Regions from separate parts of the Homo sapiens genome. Here all the other regions are reported to be linked to region 4. Evidence: microRNA targets listed by miRTarBase, many of them from high-throughput screens and not tested one by one. Region 4 holds a microRNA gene; each other region holds the end of a gene's coding sequence.

What was found. Region 4 holds the annotated microRNA hsa-miR-450a-1-3p (AUUGGGAACAUUUUGCAUGUAU, at 2,864-2,885, opposite strand). A microRNA usually pairs through its seed, bases 2 to 8, with sites in the 3' UTR of a target mRNA and lowers its output. Matches are read on the target gene's strand: a 7mer-m8 pairs with bases 2 to 8, a 7mer-A1 pairs with bases 2 to 7 and ends in A, and an 8mer does both.
Region 1: the mRNA of LY6G5B is a reported target of hsa-miR-450a-1-3p. Seed matches in the 3' UTR shown: 7mer-A1 at 1,499-1,505.
Region 2: the mRNA of ADIPOQ is a reported target of hsa-miR-450a-1-3p. Seed matches in the 3' UTR shown: 7mer-A1 at 3,099-3,105 and 7mer-A1 at 583-589.
Region 3: the mRNA of PRKAB2 is a reported target of hsa-miR-450a-1-3p. Seed matches in the 3' UTR shown: 7mer-m8 at 2,955-2,961, 7mer-m8 at 2,787-2,793, 7mer-m8 at 2,425-2,431 and 7mer-m8 at 2,027-2,033.
Region 5: miRTarBase lists SLC19A3 as a target of hsa-miR-450a-1-3p. Seed matches in the 3' UTR shown: 7mer-A1 at 1,960-1,966, 7mer-A1 at 2,332-2,338 and 7mer-A1 at 3,546-3,552.

The regions. Positions count from the first base shown.
Region 1 is chr6:31,671,202-31,676,331 of GRCh38, forward strand. LY6G5B (lymphocyte antigen 6 family member G5B) reads left to right here. Exons shown (of 3, transcript NM_021221.3): 2 at 1-83; 3 at 663-2,345. The coding sequence ends at 1,081. Among named protein-coding and RNA genes, the nearest start is that of LY6G5B, 3.8 kb to the left of the region's middle.
Region 2 is chr3:186,853,685-186,858,814 of GRCh38, reverse strand. It overlaps ADIPOQ (adiponectin, C1Q and collagen domain containing), which reads right to left. Exons shown (of 3, transcript NM_004797.4): 3 at 352-4,631. The coding sequence ends at 4,111. ADIPOQ-AS1 (ADIPOQ antisense RNA 1) reads left to right here. Exons shown (of 4, transcript NR_046662.2): 2 at 2,699-4,682; 3 at 4,943-5,037. Among named protein-coding and RNA genes, the nearest start is that of ADIPOQ-AS1, 5.1 kb to the left of the region's middle.
Region 3 is chr1:147,155,349-147,160,478 of GRCh38, forward strand. It overlaps PRKAB2 (protein kinase AMP-activated non-catalytic subunit beta 2), which reads right to left. Exons shown (of 8, transcript NM_005399.5): 8 at 1-4,294. The coding sequence ends at 4,217. Among named protein-coding and RNA genes, the nearest start is that of PRKAB2, 15 kb to the right of the region's middle.
Region 4 is chrX:134,537,495-134,542,624 of GRCh38, forward strand. MIR450A1 (microRNA 450a-1) reads right to left here and starts at 2,937; the gene lies at 2,847-2,937. MIR450B (microRNA 450b) reads right to left here and starts at 2,768; the gene lies at 2,691-2,768. It overlaps MIR450A2 (microRNA 450a-2), which reads right to left and starts at 3,113; the gene lies at 3,014-3,113. It overlaps MIR542 (microRNA 542), which reads right to left and starts at 3,943; the gene lies at 3,847-3,943.
Region 5 is chr2:227,683,290-227,688,289 of GRCh38, reverse strand. SLC19A3 (solute carrier family 19 member 3) reads left to right here. Exons shown (of 6, transcript NM_025243.4): 5 at 1-124; 6 at 717-4,527. The coding sequence ends at 893. Among named protein-coding and RNA genes, the nearest start is that of SCYGR5, 19 kb to the right of the region's middle.

The DNA.
Region 1 (5,130 bases), not on the chromosome of region 4:
CCCTTCTGTAGGATGCATTTCAGGCTCAGAGAAGTGTACCATCAGCAGCTCATCCCTGTGCATGGTGATCACCATCTATTATGGTAAATAAGGTCCCAGGAAGGGGCTGCTGGTGGGGCAGCCAATGGCTTGGTCTTCTCTCCTCTCACAGATCAGGGCTGCTCCGGGCATGGGGTACAAGAAGAGAGGAGGGGCTGAGTGCAATGGCTCATGCCTGTAACCCTAGCACTTTGGGAGGCTGAGGCAGGTGGATCACTTAAGCTCTAGAGTTCAAGACCAGCCTAGGCAACATAGTGAGACCCTGTCTCTACAAAAAAATAGCCAGGCATGGTGGTATGCACCTGTAGTCCCAGCTACTCGGGAGGCTGAGGTGGGAGATCTCTTAAACTCAGGAGGCATAGGTTGCAGTGAGCCAAGATTGCGCCACCATGCTCCAGCCTGAGTAACAGAGCTAGACCCTGTCTCAAAAAAAACCAGAAGAATCTTGGAAGGAGGGGTCTAAGGTTCTAGGGGGCCAGCAGAGCTCACTTTTCTAGCCTCTTGAAGGACTCTGGGTTAGAAGTAAATTAGGTCTGGGTGAAGGATGGGAAAAGTCAGTAGCAGGGGTTCTTGGACTATGGGAAGCTATTGGAAGGGGTTATCAGCTTTCCCCTCTCCCTCAGATGTCAAGGTTCGCTTCATCGTTCGAGGCTGTGGACAGTACATTTCCTACCGCTGCCAAGAAAAACGCAACACCTACTTTGCAGAGTACTGGTATCAGGCCCAGTGCTGTCAGTACGATTATTGCAACTCCTGGTCAAGCCCCCAACTCCAGAGCTCTCTGCCGGAGCCCCATGACAGGCCCCTGGCCCTGCCTCTGTCTGACTCCCAGATTCAGTGGTTCTACCAGGCCCTGAACCTCTCCCTGCCCCTCCCCAATTTCCATGCTGGGACGGAGCCTGATGGCCTGGACCCCATGGTCACACTGTCCCTGAACCTGGGCTTGTCTTTTGCTGAGCTGCGCCGCATGTACTTGTTCCTCAATAGTTCAGGACTTTTGGTTCTTCCCCAGGCTGGACTCTTGACACCTCACCCTTCCTGAATTCCACAGTGCAAATATCTTTCTGTAACACCCTCAGCATCCTGCACTGCCCTCTCTGAAAACACCCACATTCTTTGGTCACTGTGATTTCTTAGGCCTCCGTCTGTTGTACCACTAGCATCTATATGACTTTTGTGTAATTTTCTCTCTTGAACTCTGGTGCTGTTTTTTTGTTTGTTTGAGACAAAGTCTCGCTCTGTCACCCAGGGTGGAGTGCAGTGGCATGATCTCTGCTCACTACAACCTCCACCTCCCGGGTTCCAGCGATTCTCCTGCCTCAGCCTCCCGAGTAGCTGGGACTACAGGCGTGCACCACCACGCCTGGCTAATTTTTTGTATTTTTAGTAGAGACGGGGTTTCACCATGTTGGTCAGGCTGGTCTCGAACTCCTGACCTCGTAATCTGCCCTCCTCGACCTCCCAAAGTGCCGGGATTACAGGTGTGAGCCACTGTGCCTGTCTGAGCTCTGGTGCTGTTCTTCCCCCTAGAAAAGAATCTCTAGTGTGGATTCTGCCCAGACAGGCTGACCTGAGAAAGGCACAGTGGTTCCTCCATTCCTTCCCCATCATCTGAGTGTTCCAGTATCCCCCATCCCTCTCAATCCAGTCACCTGCCTATTGACATCTAGCTCTGTTTCCCCTGTCTTGTCCATGTCTCTAAGACCCAGTACCAGACTGAACTAGCAGCAAGAAGGACGAGGAGGCCGGGCATGGTGGCTCACGCCGGTAATCCCAGCACTTTGGGAGGCCGAGGTGGGCGGATCACTTGAGATTGGGAGTTTGAGACCAGCCTGGCCAACATGGTAAAACCCGCTCTCTATTAAAAATAGAAAAATCAGCTGGGTGTGGTGGCACACCTCTGTAATCCCAGCTACTCAGGAGGCTGAGACAGGAGAATCACTTGAACCCGGGAGGCAGAGGTTGCAGTGAGCCGAGATCGCGCCACTGCACTCCAGCCTGGGTGACACAGTGAGACTCCGTCTCCAAAAAAAAGGATGAGGAATAGAATTCTGTGCAGATGTCCTGACTTGGCAATTTTGTGTCCCTGCCTCACTGTCTCCACCAACCCCCGCCTGTCCTAGTGTTGTTCTGCCTCCTGTCCTCTCTTGCTCTCTTGTCAGTCTCTGGCTTCCTCGGCCCCATTTCACTTCACTGAGTCCTGACACCCATCTCCCTAGGGGCCTGTGAGAGGAGAGGGAAGGGTCTGTTCTGCTCAGCTCCATGTCCCCCATTTTCCTCCACAATAAACTGGGACTGGGCTAAAACTGTGTCACATTGTTTGTGGGGTCAGGCTCAGGTGTGGGCAGGTAAACACAGATTAAAGAGGGTTAATGCCTGGCGCAGTGGCTCACGCCTGTAATCCCAGCACTTTGGGAGGCTGAGGCAGGCGGATCACCTGAGATTGGGAGTTTGAGACCAGCCTGACTAATATGGAGAAACCCCATCGCTACTAAAAATACAAAATTAGCCGGGCTTGGTAGCGCATACCTGTAATTACAGCTACTCGGGAGGCTGAGGCCGGAGAATCACTTGAACCTGGAAGGTGGAGGTGGCGATGAGCCGAGATTGCACCATTGCACTCCAGCCTGGGCAACAAGAGTGAAACTGTGTCTCAAAAAAAAAAAAAAAAAAAAGGGTTAGTGAGGTTTGGGATCCAAATAGGATTGCAGAGCCCTCTCCATTGCACTTGGCGTTTGTCGCTTCCTCTCGGCCTCCTGTAAAGGGCACACATCCCTCCCCACCCTCTGCTTAGCTGGAGATCAAAGCATGGGGACTGTGATTCTTCCCAGCCTTAAACATACCCTACAAAACCTGGAAAGTTAGACCCTGATGATGCCAGGTCTTTTCACCTAAGAAAAGAAACTTTAGGCCAGGTGCGGTGGCTCATGCTTGTAATCCCTGAACTTTGGGAGGCCGAGGTGGGTGGATCACCTGAGGTCGGGTTTGAGACCAGCCTGACCAACATGGTGAAATCTTGTCTCTACTAAATATGAAAAATTAGCTGGGCATGGTGGCTCATGCTTGTAATCCCAGCTACTTGGGAGGCTGAGGCAGGAGAATTGCTTGAACCGGGGAGGTGTAGGTTGCAGTGAGCTGAGATCACGCCATTGCACTCCAGACAGGGCAACAAGAGCGAAACTCTGTCTTAAAAAAAAAAAAAAAAGCCTGGGCGCGGTGGCTTGCCTGTAATCCCAGCACTTTGGGAGGCCGAAGCAGGCGGATCATGAGGTCAGGAGTTCGACACCAGCCTGACCAACATGGTGAAAGCCCATCTCTACTAAAAAAAAAAAAAAAAAAATTAGTTGGGCATGGTGGCACGTGTCTGTGATCCCAGCTACTCAGGAGGCTGAGGCAGGAGAATCGCTTGAACCTGGGAGGCAGAGTTTGCAGTGAGCCGAGATCGTGCCACTGTACTCCAGCCTGGGTGACAGACCGAGACTGTCTCCAAAAAAAAAAAAAAAGAAACTTTCTCTTTAAACCAGAAAGACTCAGGAACTCAGAGCCACATGCCAGAGTTACCTGCTGCTGGGGCCCTGGACTCCTGCCATTCCTTAGTTCTTTTCAAGGATTCTGGCATCCAGGATGCCCTCTCGAGGGGCCCAATTTGAGGGGCAAAGTGCTGAGAGCACTGATGTTGGGCTGCAGTGGTTGGATCTTCATGCTAATATTTTAATTTTGAAATAGTGCAAACGTATAGAAAGCAAGGATGGATACAACAGCCTTTTCCATACACTGGATAAACATGCTGGACATAACGCTGCTCTGAGTCAGGCTTGGTATTGAGCAGCAGGACTCCCAGATGAGTATAGCCAGGTGTCTGCCCTTCCAAGTCTTGCAGCCCAGTGCTTGGGTTATGAAACCTTTTTCTGAAAAGCAGTGCAGCTTTGTGGCTGGGAGGTCCAATCCCAGCCCCTCTACCACTTGGATATGTCAGTCTCTTCAGCCCCACCTTGGTCACCTGTCAAGTAGGGATAGTGCCTCAGATGATTGAGAAAACACATGTAAATGTGCATACACAAGTAGAAGTTAAGGCCTTTTCCCCCTCAAAAAAATATATTTGCCCTAGAGTCAAATGCATACACAATGTTCAGCTTTTTTTTCTAAGGTTCTTACTATGTTGCCCAAGCTGGCCTTGAACTCCTGGGCTCAAGAGATTCTTCTGCCTCAGCCTCCAAGTAGCTGGGACTACAGATGCACACCACCATGCTCACCTGGCTGATTTACTTATTTTCAAACCTTTTTGGTAAAACATTCAGAAGCTTGCACATATCACAAGATGGATTTTTGTAAACCACACATCTGTGTAACCAGCCACCAAATCAGCGTGAAGACCTTTACCTGCAGCCAAGCCTGCCTCTGTTCCCCTCTCCCAGGTGCTCTTCCCAGCTCTGGGGTAGCCGCTGTCCTGACTGGTAGTAGCTTAGATGAGTTCTGTCTGTGCTTGATGGAAATGGCATCGTACGCATCTGCTTTTACCTATATAGTGTTTTGCACACGTGTTAACAAATCTGTGTGGCCTGTACTCTGACGGAAAATACCAAACCAATGATAATTAAGTCATGAGGCAGTTGGCGTACAAAGAGAGGTACAAACCCTTAATGTGCCCCCCAACCCCCACCTTGCTAAGTCCACCCTTCTCCATGACCTCTGACGTCAGTATAAGACAGAGAAAGGCCCAGGTTTATAGCAGGTCAACCTGGAAGACACCCTCAGAGGCTGAAGAACTTGGCCCAGAATTGAAGAGACCAGGACTCCAATAAGGTCTAACATCTCTTTGAGAGTGGCCTTCTCGGCTCGGGGTGACTCACGCCTGTAATCCCAGCCCTTTGGGAGGCCAACGCAGGCAGATCACTTGAAGTCAGGAGTTCGAGACCAGCCTGGCCAACTGGTGAAACCCCGTCTCTACTAATAAAATATAAAAATTAGCCAGGTGTGGTGGCATGTGCTTGTAATCCCAGCTACTCGGGAGGCTGAGGCAGAAGAATCACTTGAACCTGGGAGGCAGAAGTTGCAATGAGCCAAGATCACACCACTGCACTCCAGCCTAGG
Region 2 (5,130 bases), not on the chromosome of region 4:
GACTGACGAATGCAAAAATCATAACATTGCCTATAATGTTTCAGTGTATATAGATGTAATATATATGACAACTACAACATAAAAGAAAGTGGATAGAGGTACTAATATGATTATAAGCCTTCTACGGTTTACTGCAAGTGGCAAAATATTAACTTTATGCACACTGTGAAAAGTTAAGTACATTGTAATCCCTCAAGCAACCACTAAAAAATACCACAAAGAGATATAGGCAAATACCCAATAAATAAATTAAGATAAAATATTATGAAATATTTAAACAATCCAAAAGAATTCTGGAAAGAGAATAAAACAGAAGTGGTGAACAGCAAACAAATAAAACAGTCATCCATCTTAAATTCAACAATTTTATTAAATATAAATTGTCTAAACACCAATTAAAAGACAGATATTTTTAGACTGGATAAAAATTATACCCAACTACATGCAGTCTGTAAGAAACACATTTTAAATACAATAATATAGATATATTTAAAGTAACATGATGGAAAAAGATATACCACAAAAACACTAATCAAAAGAAAGTTGACCAGGTGTGATGGCTCATGCCTGTAATCCCAGCACTTTGGGAGGCCGAGGCGGGTGGATCACAAAGTCAGGAGTTTGAAACCAACCTGACGAATGTGGTGAAACCCCGTCTCTACGAAAAATACAAAAATTAGCTGGGCGCAGTGGCATGAGCCTGTAGTTCCAGCTACTTGGGAGGCTGAGGCAGGAGAATTGCTCATGGTAGAGGTAGCAGTGAGCCAAGATCACACCACTGAACTCCAGCCAGGGCCACAGAACGAGAGTCTGTCAAAAAAAGAGAGAGAGAGAGAGAGAGAAAGAAAAGGAGGAAGGAAGGAAGGAAAGAGAGAGAGAGAGAAAGAAAGGAAGGAAGAAAGAAAGGAAGGAAGAAAGAAAAGGAAGTTGAGTGCGTATGTTATTTTTAGACAAAGTAGACTTCAGAACACAGAAAATTATCACAGATAAAGAAGGACATTACATAATGATAAGAGAGTAAATGCACCAATAAGACATAATACTAAACATGTATATATCTAATAATAGAGCGCTAAAATATATGAAGCAAAAGCTGACAGAACTAAAGAGAATTGGACAAATCCACAATTGTACTTCAAAGCATCACAGGACCATTAATCCTGAAATCTTGACCTCAGTTTCTCTCAGGCCTCTTTTGGCCTCAGTTGACTCTCTCTGTGCCTCTGGTTCCACAAAGGAATAACCCTGCCCCAGAGAGTTTAGGGTAACTGTGAAAGCGTGTTCTGTAAGGAGCCCACCCCAACCAGATGTGAGACTGTGAGCATAGCCAGACTTTAGCTACTTGTTGAAATTTTAGAGAAAATCAATAGGAATTTTCCAGCTATGTCTCTCTGGGAAACTCATGAAAGCTCAAACACAGCATTAAGAGTTTGTTGTGGACAGGTATTATTTTGCATCTATCATCCACTCTCCTATTTCTGATAACAGTGTCCCAATTTTGCTTTAGGGAAAATACCTCTACATACCCCTAACTTAAGCTGCAATTAAGTCAATATGAATATTTCATCCTCCTGACTCAGTGATTGGTCAGAAACAGGCACACAACTCAGCCAGAGCAATGAGATGCAAGGTTACACTTGCTGGGGCATCTGGGAAAGAGAGCTTCCTCTCTCCTCTTTGGGCATCACCAGAAAACATGATGTCCATTTAGCCAGATGGTGTGGCTTGGGGATACGAGAGCTGGGCAGGCCACAGTCTTTTTGATATCGGGAGGGAAACCCTAGAACTATACTGTGTAGCACCTGAGGGTAAAGCCTACACTGCGGAAGGCAGAACAGAAGGACATACAGAAAAGGGTCTTGATTGTTTTGAGCTTTGGTTCAAACCTTATCTAAAGACAGAACAACTCTGGTAATTTCTATTATGCAAAGGAATAAATGTTTCCATTTTTCCTTTATTTTTCTTGCTTACAGTAGTTTGCATAATATTTTGGGTTTTCTGTTGTGAATGACATTCACAACACAGAGTTCTGACTAACACAAGGCTTACTCTCACCTCTTCATCCCTCTCTAAACCTCATATCTATCTTTCTCAAAAAATAACAACAAAAATGGAGGCGGGCAGATCACAAGGTCAGGAGTTCGAGACCAGCCTGGCCAATATGGTGAAACCCTGTCTTTACTAAAAATACAAAAATTAGCCTGGCATGGTGGTAGGCACCTGTGGTCCCAGCTACTCGGGAGGCTGAGGCAGAAGAATCGCTTGAACCTGGGAGGCAAAGGTTGCAGTAAGCCGAGATCATGCCACTGCACTCTAGCCTGGCAACAGAGGGAAACTCCATCTTAAAAACAACAACAACAACAAAAAGACAAAGCTTTATATGTGGAAAAAATAATACCTTAATGATTAGCAATACACATATAAGAGAGAATTGTTCAGAATTTAAAACTGTAAGCAAAAAGATAGTTTTTTAAATTTATATATTGATAGAGAATGCTATTTACTCTGTTTTTGCTAAAATCTTTGAAGAACATCACTGGAGTTATTGTCTCCTGAGAGAATGTTTACCACCATCAACTACCTCAACCTGTAATTCTTAAAGAACAATAATAAATTCAGGAGGCCCAGTCTTCCCTGACCCTGTTGGTACTCAAGGAGACAATGGCTTCAGAATTCCTCCATGGGTTTTGCATTTCAGGCTCAAGCTACCTTCTTGATGAAAAATTCTGGACGTGTTCTGAAAATCACAGTCATCCCTAACTTCAGTGGAAAAGATTCATATTGTCCAGCTGAACAAGGATTGATACTTAAAACCAGGGATTTCCTAAAATGAAAATGTTTCTGTGGATAAAACTGATTACATGCAGAGACTGGAATGGAGTTAATTCTGGGTAGATATGGGATTCAAGAGATTGGTCTTCATGAGGCATTTATCAAGGATCTGCAAGGGATTTAGAGGTGACGGAAGCACAGTCCTTCCTGGGCAGTTGCCTCTAGCCTGGTGGGAGGTGTTCCTCACACCCAGGACTCTCATCCATGGCAAAATAAAAAGTGAGATATCGACTGGGCATGGTGGCTCATGCCTGTAATCCCAGCACTTTGGGAGGTCGAGGCGGGTGGATCACCTAGGCCAGGAGTTCGAGACCAGCCTGGCCAACATGACGAAACCCCATTTCTACTAAAAATACAAAAATTAGCCATGTGTGGTGGAATGCACCTGAAGTCTCAGCTACTCGGGAGGCTGAGGCACAATAATTGCTTGGACCCAGGAGAAGGAGGCTGCAGTGAGCCGAGGTCGTGTCACTGTACTCCAGCCTGGGTGACAGAGTGAGACTCCATCTCAAAAAAAAAAAAAGTGGATATCACATCAGAGAAGCTCCTGGCCAGGTGGCCTTGAGGAACAGGGATGAGTTCGGCACTTAGAGATGGAGTTGGCTTTCCCCGTTGGAGGGAAAGGCATGAGAAGGGACATAGGTAAGAGGAAGTAGAGTAGTGCAGGGGCCATTGAGTAGTAGTCCTTCCAAGACAGGACGTCATCATAGAACCACTTTCTCTGAGGAAGCTCTGCTTGGGGGAGGTTTTAATTCATGAGGAAGGCAAATTCAATGGCTCTCAGGTGAGGTGGGAAACAGACACCTACCAACACTCCAAAGAGAACATGTACCTCTATAAAAGGGCACAGTCTAGTGAACAAAGTCCACAGCTCTGGGTTTGATTTCTAGCACTGTCACTTAATACTGTGTGACCTTAGACATTCACTTAACTCTCTCAGCCTCAGGATACAATCTGTAAAAACAGGAGAATGCTTGTTCCCTGTGCCTTATAGGATTGATATGAGCATCAGGAGAGACAGTGGGCACAAAATAGCACTGTCAACTACTTCTTTCTAGTCAGTTATCTGGTCATGTTTGTGAAGCTCCCCAGGACTGGGAACATAGCATATGATTTTTTTAAAGTTACTCGATGAATGAATGAATAAATGAATGAGTAAATGAATGAATAATATCTAAAGGCCTCCAACTAAATAATAATCAACTTCCTAACCGTACTGAAAGCCTTTAATTGACTTTGGGGCTGTTTGGCCTGGAGGAGGCTCTGAGTTAGTGGTGATCAGTTGGTGTCATGGTAGAGAAGAAAGCCTGTGAAGGTGGAGTCATTGTCATTATCAGCATAGAGTCCATTACGCTCTCCTTCCCCATACACCTGGAGCCAGACTTGGTCGCCCACCTCCAGATGCAGGAGCACAGAGCCGGAGGCCTGGTCCACATTATTTTCCTGGTACTGATCATAGGTGAAGAGCATAGCCTTGTCCTTCTTGAAGAGGCTGACCTTCACATCCTTCATATAGACTGTGATGTGGTAGGCAAAGTAGTACAGCCCAGGAATGTTGCAGTGGAATTTACCAGTGGAGCCATCATAGTGGTTTTGCTGATTGTAGAAGATCTTGGTAAAGCGAATGGGCATGTTGGGGATAGTAACGTAAGTCTCCAATCCCACACTGAATGCTGAGCGGTATACATAGGCACCTTCTCCAGGTTCTCCTTTCCTGCCTTGGATTCCCGGAAAGCCTCGGGGACCTTCAGCCCCGGGTACTCCGGTTTCACCGATGTCTCCCTTAGGACCAATAAGACCTAAGGAATGAGAAGACCTCAGTGACTACAAAGAACAGAACTCCTGCCTAGGTTGGTTACAGCCTAAATTACCATCCCTGTGGCTCCCACTCACAACCTTCTTGACTTATAGATCAAGAAACCAATAAGAGCTCCCAAAAGGAGAGAGGTGTTACCTCCTCCTTCTATATCTCCCACAGACATGGAGGCTCCCATAATTTCAACTCTATCTTTATCTCCTATAGGTCTCTATCATAGACCCTCCACCCTGCCAGCCCTTTATGTGCTGGCACCATCAACCCTGGTTTTGCAATTCTACCCCCTCCATCTAGGATGTCTCTCCTCCTCTATTCTGCCTACCCATCATTCAAGGCCTAGCTGAAGCTCTGCCTCCTCCTTGAAGCCTTCATTCTTCATCAGGTCCACGGTGAGTATATTTTCTCTATGCTCCATACTTTGAATACTTGTTCACATTCAGTTTGACATTTTTAGAGTAGACTTTCTTGTAGTAACCACCAAC
Region 3 (5,130 bases), not on the chromosome of region 4:
CAAAGTAGTCTTATCTCTCCTTTCTGACAGACACAGAGCTGCACTCATTCGAAATGCTGCCGTGTAATACCAACCAACATGCTCCAATGTACCAAAATTCAAACAAGTCTCATTTATGAGACCCGTGTAGTGATTAGGACTAACCAACAACAGTGAGCTTTGGCTGTCCTAAAACCACAAGCTGGGTTAGGTAAGTGTTTTGTACAGGGGAACAGAAAAGAAGTAAGATCATCAATACCTAATATATGACTTAATGTAGGTATCCCTTGACCATTTAACCTGACACCTACAAAATCCATAGTGTTTAGTATTTCACACCAATCTTACTGCAAAAGTGCTGTGCTACATACAATCAATTCAAGTTAACTCCAACTAATATTGGAACTAATAAAAAATTAATTTGTAACAAAGCTTATTCACTTCAAAGCACAACTGAGAAAAGCAAATCCAGACAAAGCCCAAACTAGAATCCTAGAGCGATTCCATTGCTAAGAATTGGACTCTACAAGTAATAGACTTGAGTTTTTCTCTTTTTTCCCTTCTTTCTTATAATTTAAATTTGGCTTTTTACTCTAAAAGTTTGGGTTCATTGCAGAAATCACAGTCCTTCCATATCCAATTGTGATTGGCACTTAAGGAGAGACAAATGCTTAGATCCAAAGAGTTTTGAAAGACCCTAATGGCTACCCCTCCCAGGTCCTGCATTCCATGGGTAACTGGAGTCAGCAGCCCCTGGTAGAAGACAGCAAGAACTGGGCTTTAAGGGGAATCACAATAATGCAGGAATACACTGTACATCTGCTATTAAGCCCATGCCCCAAATCACTAGAACGTGAGAATGTAGAAATCTCTGAGAACACAATGTATTTCAAACACACACAGAGACTATTGCATATCATTTTTAGTTGAGGTCAAAATTATTAAAGCCCTATTTCCCCAATTAAAAGCAAGGAGTTCTATTAGTATGTCTTCTTCATTTATATCCCAGATTAATATAAACCCAGTCTAGAGGTATCACTTCTTTCCAAACTTAACTTCATTTCAGCAGCATACATGGAATATTGACACTTTTCAAAGTTTTTATCCCAGACCCATTAGATCTACAAGATACTAGAAAGAATTAGAGCAAAGTGAGTGGGCCTGGGTTTGTAGGATCCTCACAAACTTCTCTTGGATTCTTCTTTTACAAAGTTTCTCTACCATACAAACATACGTTTTAAAAGCCAACACTATTGAGGTTAGGTATGCCCTTCAGGGGTGTTGCCTAGAATGGTTAAATCCCATTCAGCTTAAAGGAGGCTAATAATCATGGTGTGGAATTTCTCCATACCAGCAGCATGGCTAACGTATGTGTTTTAGGTAATGTCTGACACTCTGGTAAAGTCTGCCTGACACATGAGCTTAAAGCAGAATGGAAAGGAAAGAGGAGAGAATTGGAACAAGATGAAAAGAGAAGATGGTTATACACTGCTAATTCTGTACAGTGAGATCCAAGGACACCACCATGTGGTGTCTGATTTAATTTCTTTTTAAAAGAGATCATTTTCAGTTGTAAGTTACTCAACCCTTTATTCTATTATTACTTCTCAGCTCAGTCACTCTTCTCTTCCCCACAATTCCGAAACTATGTTGAAGTTCTTTAAAGGTCGGCCCTCCTGAAGAACTATTTTCTTATTCTGCCTACTTTGACTCTGTAAAATTCCCAAAAGCAAAATAAAGGCTAAAAAAATTTTTTTTGCCTTTACTCATTTTCAAAATCTGTCAAACTCTCCTCAGCATTAAATTAATTATCCCTTTAACTAATCAATATACAATGATAAATGAGTAGTACTTTGGGTTACTTCCTTCTCTTCCTCCCTCTCTTCCAAATAGACTGAGATAAGGCTTCTCAGAACCATGGGATGTATCAGCAGTATAGAAAAGGGACAGTGCTGAATGAGTCAGCACCCAGTGCCTCCTACCCATTCCCTTCTATACCAGCTGGTAGGCTCCCATTTCACATCTGGGCTGAGAGTTACCTCAGAACTTGGGAAACTGACACTCTCTGCACATTTCCAGAGAGAAAGATCTGAAGATCACTAGCATCAAAACCTACTGTCACAGGGGGCTGACGCATTTCACAAAAGCCTCAGGCCTGAAAGAAATCGAAGAGATCTCTTTTCCTGCCCCACTCTACTGAAACACCTGTGTGGAGTAAAAATTTTCATACATGAACACATACATATTACATTTCAATACTGTTGACAAGAAATATAACAAACTTCATGTAATAACCAAGATTTTGAATCTTCCTAAGTGGCCCACTTATTTAATGAGTATTGGATAAAAACAAAATTCTAGTACAACTGAAGGCTGTAAATCCTGAGAGTTGGTTATAATAGGATCTGGCCTGGATTTTTAAATGGCACACCATTCAAAAAGTGGTTGGGAACATAAAAGGTTCTCCACAAAAGCCTTTTGCTGCAGAAGGTGGCCTTGGATGGCTAAAGTAGTATTTACTCTTAGCAATTAACCACCAAAGCATTTAGTTATTTGCATCCCAGCAAAACAACAATCCCACACTTTACTCCATCACACCTGGAATCCAAGAGGTCTACAAGTCCAAAGACAACTGTGTTATCAGCTTTGCATGGGAAAGACAGGAGGTAGCTAAACTGACCTGTAGGTGCCCTTTCAGTGTGGCTAGGGTCATCTGAGCAGTCAGGGAGTCTCTCATTCATCAACAGTTTAGCCTCCTTTAGTGTTGATTATTTGACTTATCTGCAAAATGGAAGAGCCCCAGCTACTTGGGAAAAAATGTTTTATCTCTGAACCCCAAAAGTGGATTGAATACTTTTCAGTCCACAAATGGAATTCAGTGACCCCACTTAATCATCAAACACCTTTAAAAAGAAGAGGCAGGAGAACAAAATGATTTTGTTAACATTTGGTGCAAAGAATGATACTTTTCATGGTTGGGAATACTAGGAATACTCTCTTGCTTCTTGGCCTAACAAATCTTTAAAATGAGGAACCCCTTTAGGTGCATCAAATGAGTTAAATGAACTTGAGCAGTTTATCTAGAGCAGTGTTTAGTGTAGTGATGTGTACAGGGTTGGCCATATTAATCTAAGAATGTGGAAGGCTAGACTAGAGAAGAAAATCTCTTTGAAGAAGCATTTATCAAAAGCCTGAAATTCTCCAATGCGGTCTCTTAAGACCAATGAAAAGGCATTTTTTAATTAAAAAAAAAATGCAGGCACATAAAAATCTTTCAAGGATGAAAGACATGAAAATACTCCCGGGTTCCACTCCTGCCTTCAGAACTGTTTACTGAGAAAGAAAAGACAGAAGCAGGGCCAGGCAAAGTGGGAAAACTTTCGGGAATTTGCCAATACAGCCTGAGCCTTGGCACCAAACTAAAACAAAAATGTAGGTGTTCTGCATTCTGCCTTTCTTATAATGCTGAAACATATTTTCTTTAGAAGTTAAAACAAACACGACAAAGTGGCCTGGGCCTGTGCTGGGCTAAAAAGGAGACCTTCTGATAGCCCTAGTGTCTGGGGTGGGTCAGGTGCCACAAAACTTTTCAAAGTCACTTACCCAATAAGTTTTGTGTTAGAGAGGGGTCAGGTATGGGATCTGAAGGAGGCTATTAAAGGAAGAATGTGAAATGAGAGGAATAAGGGTTCTTGTGGGGCATCTGGTATCATATAAACAACACAGATTGTGCCACATACTCTGGGAATATAGAGAACCCATGCAAGAAAAACTGCCCTTGCAATGAGGCAGCTGTTAAGTAGGGCAGCGGTCTAGCACAAGCCCATTCCTTGGAGAGCCAAGGTAGCAGTGATAGAATCTCCACCCAACAAGGATCCTAAGAGTTTGCTGTTCTTTCATTTTAGGAAAAATCTTCCTATATAGTTATTCCTGCAGCGCCCCCAAACAGGTCTTGGTGAAAACCCACAGGCAGAAACAATACTTCTAGCTGGGGCTAGGAGGCTTCCATTTACCTTCTTCTCATATGTATATTTTTTTTTCTTAAAATAAATTCCGTGAACTCATAAAGCTCTCATCTGCAATCAAATGCAAAAGCAGAGCATCCTACTCAGAGGCTCTGAAACACACATATCAGCCTCAAAGCAAATCAGCCTTCCAGTCTCAGGTAAGACTGGTTCAGTCCAGAAATGCAAGGGAGATGCTTCTCCTGAATCCTTAGAGGCAAGAAGGGATCCCTTCAAATGGGCTTGTATAGCAGAGTAGTAACATACTTCTTCTTGTAGCGATGGGTTGCGCTAAGGACCATCACACTGTCCTGCAAGGAAAAGAAACATACGCAGCTAATTCATTACTTCAGACAGTAGGTAGCTCTTCCCAGTCATCAGTCCTTCACAGTCACTCACTTTTAACAGAGATAGTTTGATATAAGAGCAGGAGGTCAAATAAGTTTTAGTTCCAATTCTGACTCCTATCATCATTCTACTTGTGGCCTTGGGTAATCTACTTAGTGTGTCCAAGTCTTTTTATCTCATCATTACAAAAGATAACACCTACCATTAAGGTTGCTCTGATGATTACATGAGAATATCTGACACAGTTTCTGACACATAAAAGGGCTGAAGAAATAATAGTCTCCTACCTTGCTCCCTTCCCTACTTTAAATTCTAATGTTGGGCCTAAAACTAGCAAGAAAAACAAAAAAGAACAAAATATTCTGGCATCCATTTCTAGAAGAAAGTCTTAAAGACAATGAGGAAAAAAAGAAACAATCCTTCTGAAAAACTATTTCCAAGTCCCAAAGCAGGTCTAATTTTCATTTAAAACCAGGGATGACTTCCAAAAGATCTCTCTGATTTAGAGGGAACCTAGGAATCCCTCTCTATCCTTGAACAAAGTAGATGTCAAAATCCTCTTCAGAAAGACACCCAATCCAATGGATCAATTCCAAACTGCCTAAACAATATGAGAGAATCAGGAATGGGTCAGAACCAAGCTAAGCCACAATAATCAAACACCTTCACCTGAGTCAGAACCAGTAAGAAGACAGCAAGAGGTACCATTTCCCAGGCTGTGTTGTAGACTACAGATGTACCACAGGAGGAGATGGCAAGCCTAGGCAAATTAAATGACATCCAAGGAGCAGTTACAGGA
Region 4 (5,130 bases):
TTCCTCCAGTGCTTATGTCATTACCCCCTGCCTGGAATGTCCACCCCTGTCCTCTCTGCCTCTTCTGGCCCCACCTATCTTTTTTTTTTTTTTTAAAGAGATAGGGCCTTGCTTTGTTGACTAGGCTGGAGTGCAGTGGCCATTCATAGGCATAATCATGGCGCACTGCAGCCTGGAACTCCTGGGCCCAAGTGATCCTCCTCCCTCAGCCTCTGGCGTAGCTGGGCCTACAGGTGAACACTACCATGCCCAGCCCCACCCACTTTTGCAGGTGCTCATCAAGTCCCATATCCTTCATAGAGTCTTTCCAAGTCACTCCCTGTGTCCTTTAGACCCAGTATATTACAATGGAAAAAGCCCTGAAGCTCAAGGTTCAAGTTGTAACATTGCCCAATTCTCTGCACGACCTCTCTGCAACTTATTTTCTCTCTCTGCAACTTGGTTTTCTCTTCTGTAAAATGAGGGGCTGGACTTGTGTAAAATGAGGGTTTGTACCCTGTTAACAAAGGGAAGCCCTCAGCACCTTCTGCACCTGCCCCTCCTCAACCCCTCTTGGCATACTTCCAACTCTGAGAAGCAATCTCTGTACTGGCCAAATTCTAGGACATTTCACTGGTTCAGAAATTCAGCCGGGCGCAGGGGCTCACGCCTGTAATCCCAATACTTTGGGAGGCTGAGGTGGGAGTATCGCTTGAGCCCAGGAGTTCAAGACTAGCCTGGGCGATATAGTGAGACCCTGTCTCTCTGTCTTTCTCTATATATACATATATAGAAAGAAATTCAGGGGCTGAAGATTTTTTTTTCACTGGTCAACGAAAGGGGCTTAAGATCAATGCTCAATTTGGAATGATTTCTCTCTCTCTCTCTTTCTCAGCCCTAGAGGCGAGACCTCCCATTTAGAAAGGGGTCCCTCCCACACTCTGCCCCTATTCCATACATTTTGTCCAGCAGGGACTAGAGTGAGCCCTAGGGGAAAGGAGGCCACTTAGATGGTTGCTTAGCAAAGCAGATTCTCTGTGTGGTCTGACCTGGCTCAGACGAAGGTCAAAGCCTCAGCTGATCCCTGCTCTGTACCCAGTGGCAGACAAAGTATTCGTGTGTTCAAGGCCTCTCTGGCTCAGTATCACCTTAACCTCCGCTTCTCCCCTACCCGCTCCTCTATCCACAAGTAACTAGCACAGAGGTAGGCACCCAGTAAATATGCTCTGATTGACAGAGTGTGGCAGATAAAAATGCTTATGCTCCTTAAAGAGGAGTACACACATTTAAGCATGGGGACCAGTTTGGTTGTATGATTGTATGTTCTTAAGCAGAACAAGGGCAGGGCATCAGAAAATTGGAGGAATGGTCTCCTGTATCTTTGTAAATGGATATGTGTATATATATTTGCCTCACAACTCAGCTTCTCCTTTAAGGAATATGATGGATCTATTTTGAAAGTAATGTCGGCCGGGCACGGTGGCTCACGCCTGTAATCCCAGCACTTTGGGAGGCCAAGGTGGGCAGATCACGAGATCAGGAGATCGAGACCATCCTGGCTAACACAGTGAAACCCGTCTCTACTAAAAATACAAAAAAATTAGCCAGGCAAGGTGGCGGGCACCTGTAATCCCAGCTACTTGGGAGGCTGAGGCAGGAGAATCGCTTGAACCTGGGAGGCAGAGCTTGCAGTGAGCTGAGATCGCACCATTGCACTCCAGCCAGGGTGACAGAGCCAGCCAGACTCCGTCTCAAAAAAAAAAAAAAAAAAAAGAAAGTAATGTCTAGTCATATGGACTTGCTAGAGTGCCAAATATGTCCTTGGTGGGGGAACAGTTTCCCAAAATGCTACTAAAAAGATAGGAAGGAACTTAGATCCTCCTGTAATGTGTCTCTGTCCAAATCAGTGCCACTGAGGAACGCTAAAACCTTGGTAGGTGCCCTTCAGACCATGGGCCAGGTACGTGACCAAATGGTTCCATCTCTTACCAGAACAAGGATCGCCTAAATTGAGGTGTCACATGTGTTCTGCAACACCAGAGTTACTATGGAGCTCAGCTGAATTTGCGGGAAAATGCAGGGGGGGCTTTACCCGCATCTGCAAGAAGTTGGCTGAGTGGAAATAACCTAAATAAGGTGTTTTCCTGACTTGGGCATATCTCAAACTGGCCAATGCGTCTTGAGGCCCTGGGCGAGCATCCAAGTACCACCTTCCTGAATTGCTACTAGAGGAAAAGGAGCCTGTTTCAGCTTTCTATACTTCTTTAAATGTTACTTTGATTAGACATAGATAGCAGTTTGTTTACTAATATTACTATTATAACTCTGTCGTGGTTATATTTTTTAGTTATACTTTCTCTTTTCTTTGCCAAGAGCAAATGAAAACACATTTGCACTGCAGATCCAACTGAAGTTGTACAAAGGTTTCCCAGATATGTTTGAAAAAGTATTCTAGGCCCACTGCTGGCCAAATAGGAAGTCTTCCCCCACCCTTATGTCAGGGGTTCATGCTTTAAAAAAAATACAAACTCTTTTTAAAAATAAAATGTTTTATTATTGCTATAAAAGCAATGCATTTTATTGTTTATGCAAATATTACTTGGAAAATACATAAAAGTATAAAGAGAAAAACAAACATTACCTATAATTTTATACTATAATACTGTTACAAGTTTTGGTATATTTCTTCCTAGACTTTTCTCCATATGTTGATACAAAACTATGGATGCAAAATGATCCCAATACACTTATATTACATATTCAGGAACATATTGCAAAAATAATTCTGCATCTTACATTTATCACAGAAGTAAACCACAGATAGCCGCTGTTAGATTTTTTGCTTATTCCCTCCATCTTTTCATCTGTATATTGATACAAAACTATACATGCAAAATGTTCCCAATATATTTATAGTGCATATTAGGAACACATCGCAAAAACAGTTTAGTATCGTTTTTGATTGCCTATAGTGACACAAGTCAGCGATAACCACCTCTAGACTTTTGGTATACTTCCTGATAGCCTCTTTTCCCCATATTATTGATACAAAACTATGAATGCAAAATGTCCCCAATACATTTATATTACATATTAGGAACACATCGCAAAAATAGTTTAGCATCTTTCTTTGGTCACCTTTATACCACAACTCAGAGATAATCACAATAAAGTTTTTATATGTTTCCTCCTAGCCTTTTATCTGTATGTTGATACAAAACTATTCATACAGAATGCTCCCTATATACCTATATTGCAGAGATGGGAAAATATTTTGCACCTTTTTTCAATCGCTAAATGTTTTATCAGGAGCACATTCTCATGACATGAAAATTACTTTCAGAAACATTATTTTACATGAAAGCATCCTATTCTATTGTACTAGCTAGCTACGCTGTATTTTATTTGTCTAATCCTTTGTTGTTGGTCATTCAGGATGTTCCTAACTTCCATCCTTAAAATATTGAAATGAGCATCTTTATGCATTTTTTTTAACTGGGGCTTTCTGTTCATGTAGTTTTTATGGTTTTTCTTGACCACTTGTGTGGACTCAACATACTAAAAATGACCCTGTGTCTGTAATGCTTATAGCAAAGTGTTTTCCAGTTGTTTGCTTGAGCATAAATTCTTTATTTTAGCATTCTAGCACAAGTATAAAATCATATACCTTATGTAAGTTTCAATTCATTCAACAAACATTTAAAGCAATAAAGACACAAATAAAGGCATTCCCATTACACTCCTATGAAAACACAACTCATCCTCCCACCCCATCCCATAGCAACCCCTTTCTTCTTTGCTTAGGGCCCACTTTCCTCCTGATCTTTTCATTGATTCGTCTTGTAATACTTACCACATGTTTTGCTATGAAGATGAGTGGCTCCCAGACCTTTCAGTTATCAATCTGTCACAAGTGCACACTGGTATCTCGTGACATGATGATCCCCGAGATGTCTGAGATCTGTGCATCCTTGACCGATCCCAAATTTCTGTATCACCCATGACCCCTAAAGACTTTTTAGAGAATTATATTTTGACAACATAACAAGAAAACGTGGCATCTCACACACACACACACACACACACACACACACACACACACACACACACAAAACCATGAAAAAGTAGAGAAAGAAGAAACTTCAGCTCTAATCCCACCACCCTTAAGTAACAAGTATGTCTGTTTTGCAGGTTTCCTCCAGGTTCTGCTCCTATTTTTCAATCATGGTGTCCATGTGATTTTGTGGCCCTGATTTTTTTTAAGTTGATATCATAAGCATTTTCCAGGTTTCTGTATATTCTCTATCATTATTATTTGCAATGGCTGAAAAAGGTTCCATTGAGTGAGTGACTAGATTAAGTCAACCCCTATAGCTTGACACTTCATTTGTTTCCTTAAGATAATTTGATTGAATCTACAGAAAATAACAAACATGGGACAGAGGTTTAAAATGAATTTAAATCATGCTTTTTTGGTTTGTGCAGATTGACTTGTACACGGCTGGGTAACTTATAGTCACTATTTAGTAATCCTGGGGCCAATCTTGGGCCTCACCCAGGAAGTGTCCAATGTATAGGCCAAAGCTCATCATAAGACTAGCCAGTTTCACCGGGAATTTTTGTAACCAAACACATTCACCTCCATTTCCTGCTCTGGTCACTACTGCATAGTCGGTTCTGATGAACAGGTAATGACATAAGGAACACAGTATGAGGCCTGGAGGAAGAGCCCCCAGAGAGTAGCCTCAGACAAATCCTTAACCTCCAGAGGCCCCAGTTTTCTTGTCTGTAATTATTTTTTGGACTGCCTTAACTCTGTTTGTCTTTCAAGGTTGTCACAAATTAAAAAAAGAAAAAAAAGAAAAAACAAAGTATTTGGAAAAGTATGTAAACACACGATACAAAGGCAAGATGTTGGGATACTGATGATTCTGTGGCCACGCCTTTAGAAGGTCTGGTCTTAGGGTAATAGTCTTGTCTGGATGGCAGGTGGGGGTGGACATGGGGGAACAGGTGAGGGAGCTGCCTTGGGAGACTCAGGCTTCAAAGCAACCCAGACTCTCACTGGCAGGTTGCTGCAGTGTTCTGAGCTCCCTGACTCCAGCAGTGGAGCCAAGGCCATGTTTCCAAACACCCACCAACTGCTCAGAT
Region 5 (5,000 bases), not on the chromosome of region 4:
TCTGAATGTGGAACGCTATGCCTTGGTATTTGGAATCAACACCTTTATTGCCTTGGTGATTCAGACCATCATGACTGTGATTGTAGTAGATCAGAGAGGGCTCAACTTGCCAGTCAGCATTCAGGTAAGCTGCAATACTTCTGTTTTCAACTAGGTAACCTCAAAAATTTCTCAACCTTACAACAAGCAATATTTAAATTTCTTGAGTTCCTTGGTTAAGCAATTAAAAAATACATAATTCCTTCATTATCATATTATAACACACCAAGTAGGTTTTGAGCAATAATTGCAACTAGGACAACATTTACATGGATAAGGCAGGTAAGAAGTAACCTCAATGCTTAAATTTATTCTTGGAGACATTGAATGTAGCATTGCACCAGCCTCCAAACAAAGACATAGAGACAGGTCAATGAGTTTTAGTGTTTTTTTGGGTTTGTTTTGTTTTGTTTTTTACTATTGATGATAGTAACTATGATTTTAACCCAAGCAACCTGCTCTAAAGCCAAGACTCTTAGTCACCGTATTGCTTACACCTTCTTACTTGATCTTGATTTCTTACTTGATAGGAGAGTATTGTTCAACCTAAATGACCCATATTAAAAACCTGGGTCTCAGTTACCCCATAATCCAAGCAAACCAACAGTATTAGGATGTATTATCATTGACATAGATGGTCATATTTTATATGTGGCTAATTATTTGTTTTTCTCCAGTTTTTAGTTTATGGGAGCTATTTTGCAGTAATTGCTGGAATTTTCCTAATGAGAAGCATGTATATTACCTACTCAACCAAATCCCAGAAGGATGTACAGAGCCCTGCTCCAAGTGAGAATCCAGATGTGTCTCACCCAGAGGAAGAGAGTAATATCATCATGTCAACAAAACTCTAACCTCATCGCAACAAACGCAACAGTGGCTTTCAAAGTTATGCAATAATAAGGAAAGATTTTGAGATGGGTGGCATATGTTTTGCCATAACTTGACATGCTTTGCAAATCTGGATTCCAATGGACCTTTCAAAACCACAACAAAACCTCAGTTTTAGATGAGTTCTCTATGTGACCAATTTTACTGGATGCAATTGACAGGACCCGTCATCATAATTAAACAACCCATATTGGGGACCCCCTGTGACTAGTAGCAGCTGGAAAATTCTGGTTTTTATCACTTGTAAAGACATGCAGATGGCGTGGAACCAAACCATGAGAAAACTCCAGCCATCCTGGAGTTGATATTCACCATTTGTGAGGAGAAATACTAACTGGACTGACCCTATTGCTAGGCTTAAATACTTATTTGATCTTACCAAAGAAGTCAACACATGGGACCTTTGTGTCACATGAACCATTTTCTTTCCTCTTCTATTAAGTGTATTTCTGTTTAAGTTACAGTTCTCTAAGAGAATTACAATGTTTGTCCCATTTCTAAGGGCTTCTCTTCAACTCTAATAACAGCATTATTCACGTTATGATTTGATAGTATTATTATTTAATTTTTTTATGATTATTTTCCATTTTGTGCTCTGAGTTTTGCTGTTGAAAGTCTCCCTCAAGAATAGCTTCAGATCCTCTTGTGTATTTGCAGAATACACAAGGTCATTTCCCAGTGGCCTGGGAGAGGCAGTGAGCCTTCTCTCCACCACCATAGACAGGTGTTAATGCATCTATGGGCCAGGTGCAGTGGCTCACTCCTGTAATCCGAGCAATTTGGGAGGCCAAGGTGGGAGTTTTGCTTGAGGCCAGAGGTTCAAGACCAGCCTGGGCAACACAGTGACACCTGACTCTACTAAAAAATTAAAAAATTAGCTGGGCAGCGTGGTGTGTGCCTGTAGTCTCAGCTACTTGGGAGGCCATGGTGGGAGGATGGGTTGAGCACAGGAGTCAGAGGCTACAGTGAGCTATGATTGCACCATTGCACTCCAGCCTGGGCAACAGAGTAAGACTCTCATCCCCCTCCTCCCAAAAAAGAGCACCTGTGTGGTGTCTGTCTAAAATAGGAAAACTTAAAGGAGGTTTCTAGAAGTATTAGAAATAAGAAAACACTGATGGGGGGAGTGGAATAAAACACCTGATTTTGTTTTGTTTTGGTTTTTGAGACAGTCTCGCTCTCTCACCCAGGCTGGAATGCAATGGCGTGATCTTGGCTCACTGCAAACTTCACCTCCTGAGTTCAAGCCATTCTCCTACCTCAGCCTCCCAAGTAGCTGGGACTATGGGTGCACACCACCACGCCTGGCTAATTTTTGTATTTTTAGTGGAGATGGGGTTTCACAATGTTGGCCAGGCTGGTCTCAAACTCCTGACTTCAGGTGATCTGTCTGCCTCGGCCTCCCAAAGAGCTGAGATTACAGGCGTGAGCCACCATGCCTGGCCAAAACACCTGATTTTTAAATGGTAGCAATTGTGCTAAATAAAATGTGTAAAAATTTTAAAGAGTTGTTAACATTTTTTGATGAATTCTGCTGAAAATTATCTGAACATACCTGTTTTTCGAAACTTCAAGAAACTTCAATAAGGGATGCATTGAGCAGTCTGACAGTGAGAATAAAGAATGCTGAGTCAAGATTTATATTAAGGCTGGAAGCTGTGGCTCACACCTGTAATCCCAGCATTTTGGGAGGCTGAAGTGAGAGGTTAATTTGAGGGTAGGGGTATGAGACCATCTTGGCCAATATAGCAAGACCCTGTGTCTAAAACAAACAAAAAAATTTTTAATTGGATTTTGATATGGTTTGGATCTGTGTCCCCACCAAATCTCACGTTGAAGTGTAATCCCCAATGTTAGAGGTGGGGCCGGCTGGGAGGCGACTGGATCATGGGTGTGAAGCCTTCATGAATGGTTTGGCACCGTCCCCTCAGTGCTGGTCTCATGACAGTGAGTTATCGTGAGATCTGGTAGTTTAAAAGTGTGTAGCACCTCCCCACTCTCTCTTTCTCCTGCTTTGGCCACGTGAAGATGCCTGCTCCCACTTTGCCTTCTGCCATGAGTAAAAATTCCCCGAGGACTCCCTAGAAGCAGATGTTGCCACGCTTCCTATATAGCCTGTGAGCTAATTAAACCCCTTTTCTTACAAACTATCTAGTCTCAGGTGTTTCTTTATAGCAATGTGATAATGGACTAATATGTTTCTCAAGTATACTCCTCTCCAAATCCCGAAATTCTTCACTGGACTAAGATCCAGCCCAAGAATCAATGCACTCACTTAGTGGAGAAAACTAATAACATTCCTACTTACATTAAAGGCAAGGAAGGAATGGCCGCTATTCTTTTTCTTCTTCTTCTTTTTTTTTTTTTTTTTTTTTTTTTGATAGAATCTTGCTCTGTCACCCAGGCTGGAGTGCAATGACGCAATGTCAGCTCACTGCAACCTCCGCCTCCCGGGTTCAAGCAATTCTCCTGCCTCAGCCTCCCGAGTAGCTGGGATTACAGGCGTGCACCACCATGCCCGGCTGATTTTTGTATATTTAGTAGAGACGGGGTTTCACCATGTTGGTCAGGCTGGTTTCAAACTCCTGGTCTCAGGTGATCCGCCCGTCTCGGTCTCCCAAAGTGTTGGGATTACAGGCTTCAGCCACCTCACACCCAGTCTATTATCCTTCTTTTTTAACTTATTATTCTGGAGGCATTAGGCATCACAATTAGACAAACAAGAAAAATCAGAGGTCAGAAATTGGAAAGGAGGCCAGGTGCAGTGGCTCACGCCTGTAATCCCAACACTTTGGGAGGCTGAGGCGGTCAGATCACATGAGGCCAGGAATTGGAGGCAAGCCTGGGCAACATGATGAAACCCTGTATGTACTAAAAACAACAAAATTAGCCGGGTGTGGTCCATGCCTGTAATCCCAGCCACTCGGTGGCTGAAGCATAAGAGTCACTTAAACCCAGGAGGCAGAGGTTGCAGTGAGTTGAGATTGTGCCACTGCACTCCAGCCTGAGCGACAGAGTGAGACCCAAAGTGGATTAAAAAATGCATTATGATTCCTTCACATATTCACCTATAACAAAATTAACTGCTAAAAAATGAGGAAGATCTTTAGTGACACAGAACTCTAAGAGCTCTACTATCAAGTGGAAAAAAGTCAAGCACCAAAATAATAATGAACGCAGCAACTCAGCATTTGTATAAAAAGGACAAAAATATCTGTATTGGCTTATATATGCGTATAACTTTTCTAAAAAGACAAATGAGGCCTGGCACGGTGGCTCATGCCTGTAATCCTGGCACTTTGGGAGGCTGAGGTAGGTGGATTGCTTGAGTTCAGGAGTTCAAAACCAGCCTAGGCAACATGGCAAAACCCTGTCTCTACAAAAAATACAAAAATTAGCTGGGCATGGTGGCTTGCACCTGGACTCCCAGCTACTTGAGGGGATGAGAAGGGAGGATCGCTTGAGCCCAGGAGGTGGAGGTTGCAGTGAGCTGAGATCATGCCACTGCACTCCAGCCCTGATGACAGAGTGAGACCCTGTCTTGAACAAACAAACCAACAATCAAACAAATAAATAAACAACTGAAACTCATACCAATGATTGCCTACTGTGGAGTAATGGGAAATGGGAGGGAGACATCACATTCTCATGGTGTTTGATGCTTGCACCAAATGAATAACCCACCAGTAAATTAAAATACGACTTTTACAAAAAAGCATTTAACCTCTTGGGAAATAAATTCGCATTGAAGAATAAGGAGCTGGAGATTTGCCATGCAACCATTATGATAGTTTTATATTTTTGGCAATGTGAATGGATTACTAAATGTGCATTTATAATTAAAAGGAACAAACAACAGAAGAAAAAAATAAGTGGGCCTGGTTGGGCACCTTGGCTTGTTCCTGGAATCCCACCACTTTGGGAGGCTGAGGAGGGAGGATCGCTTGAGCCCAGGAGTTTAAGACCACCCTGGGCAACATAGTGAGACTCCATCTCAAAAAAATTAATAATAATAAGTAGACCTGACATTGAAAAATTAAATTAAAATTTTTTATTTGGTATCTCAGTAA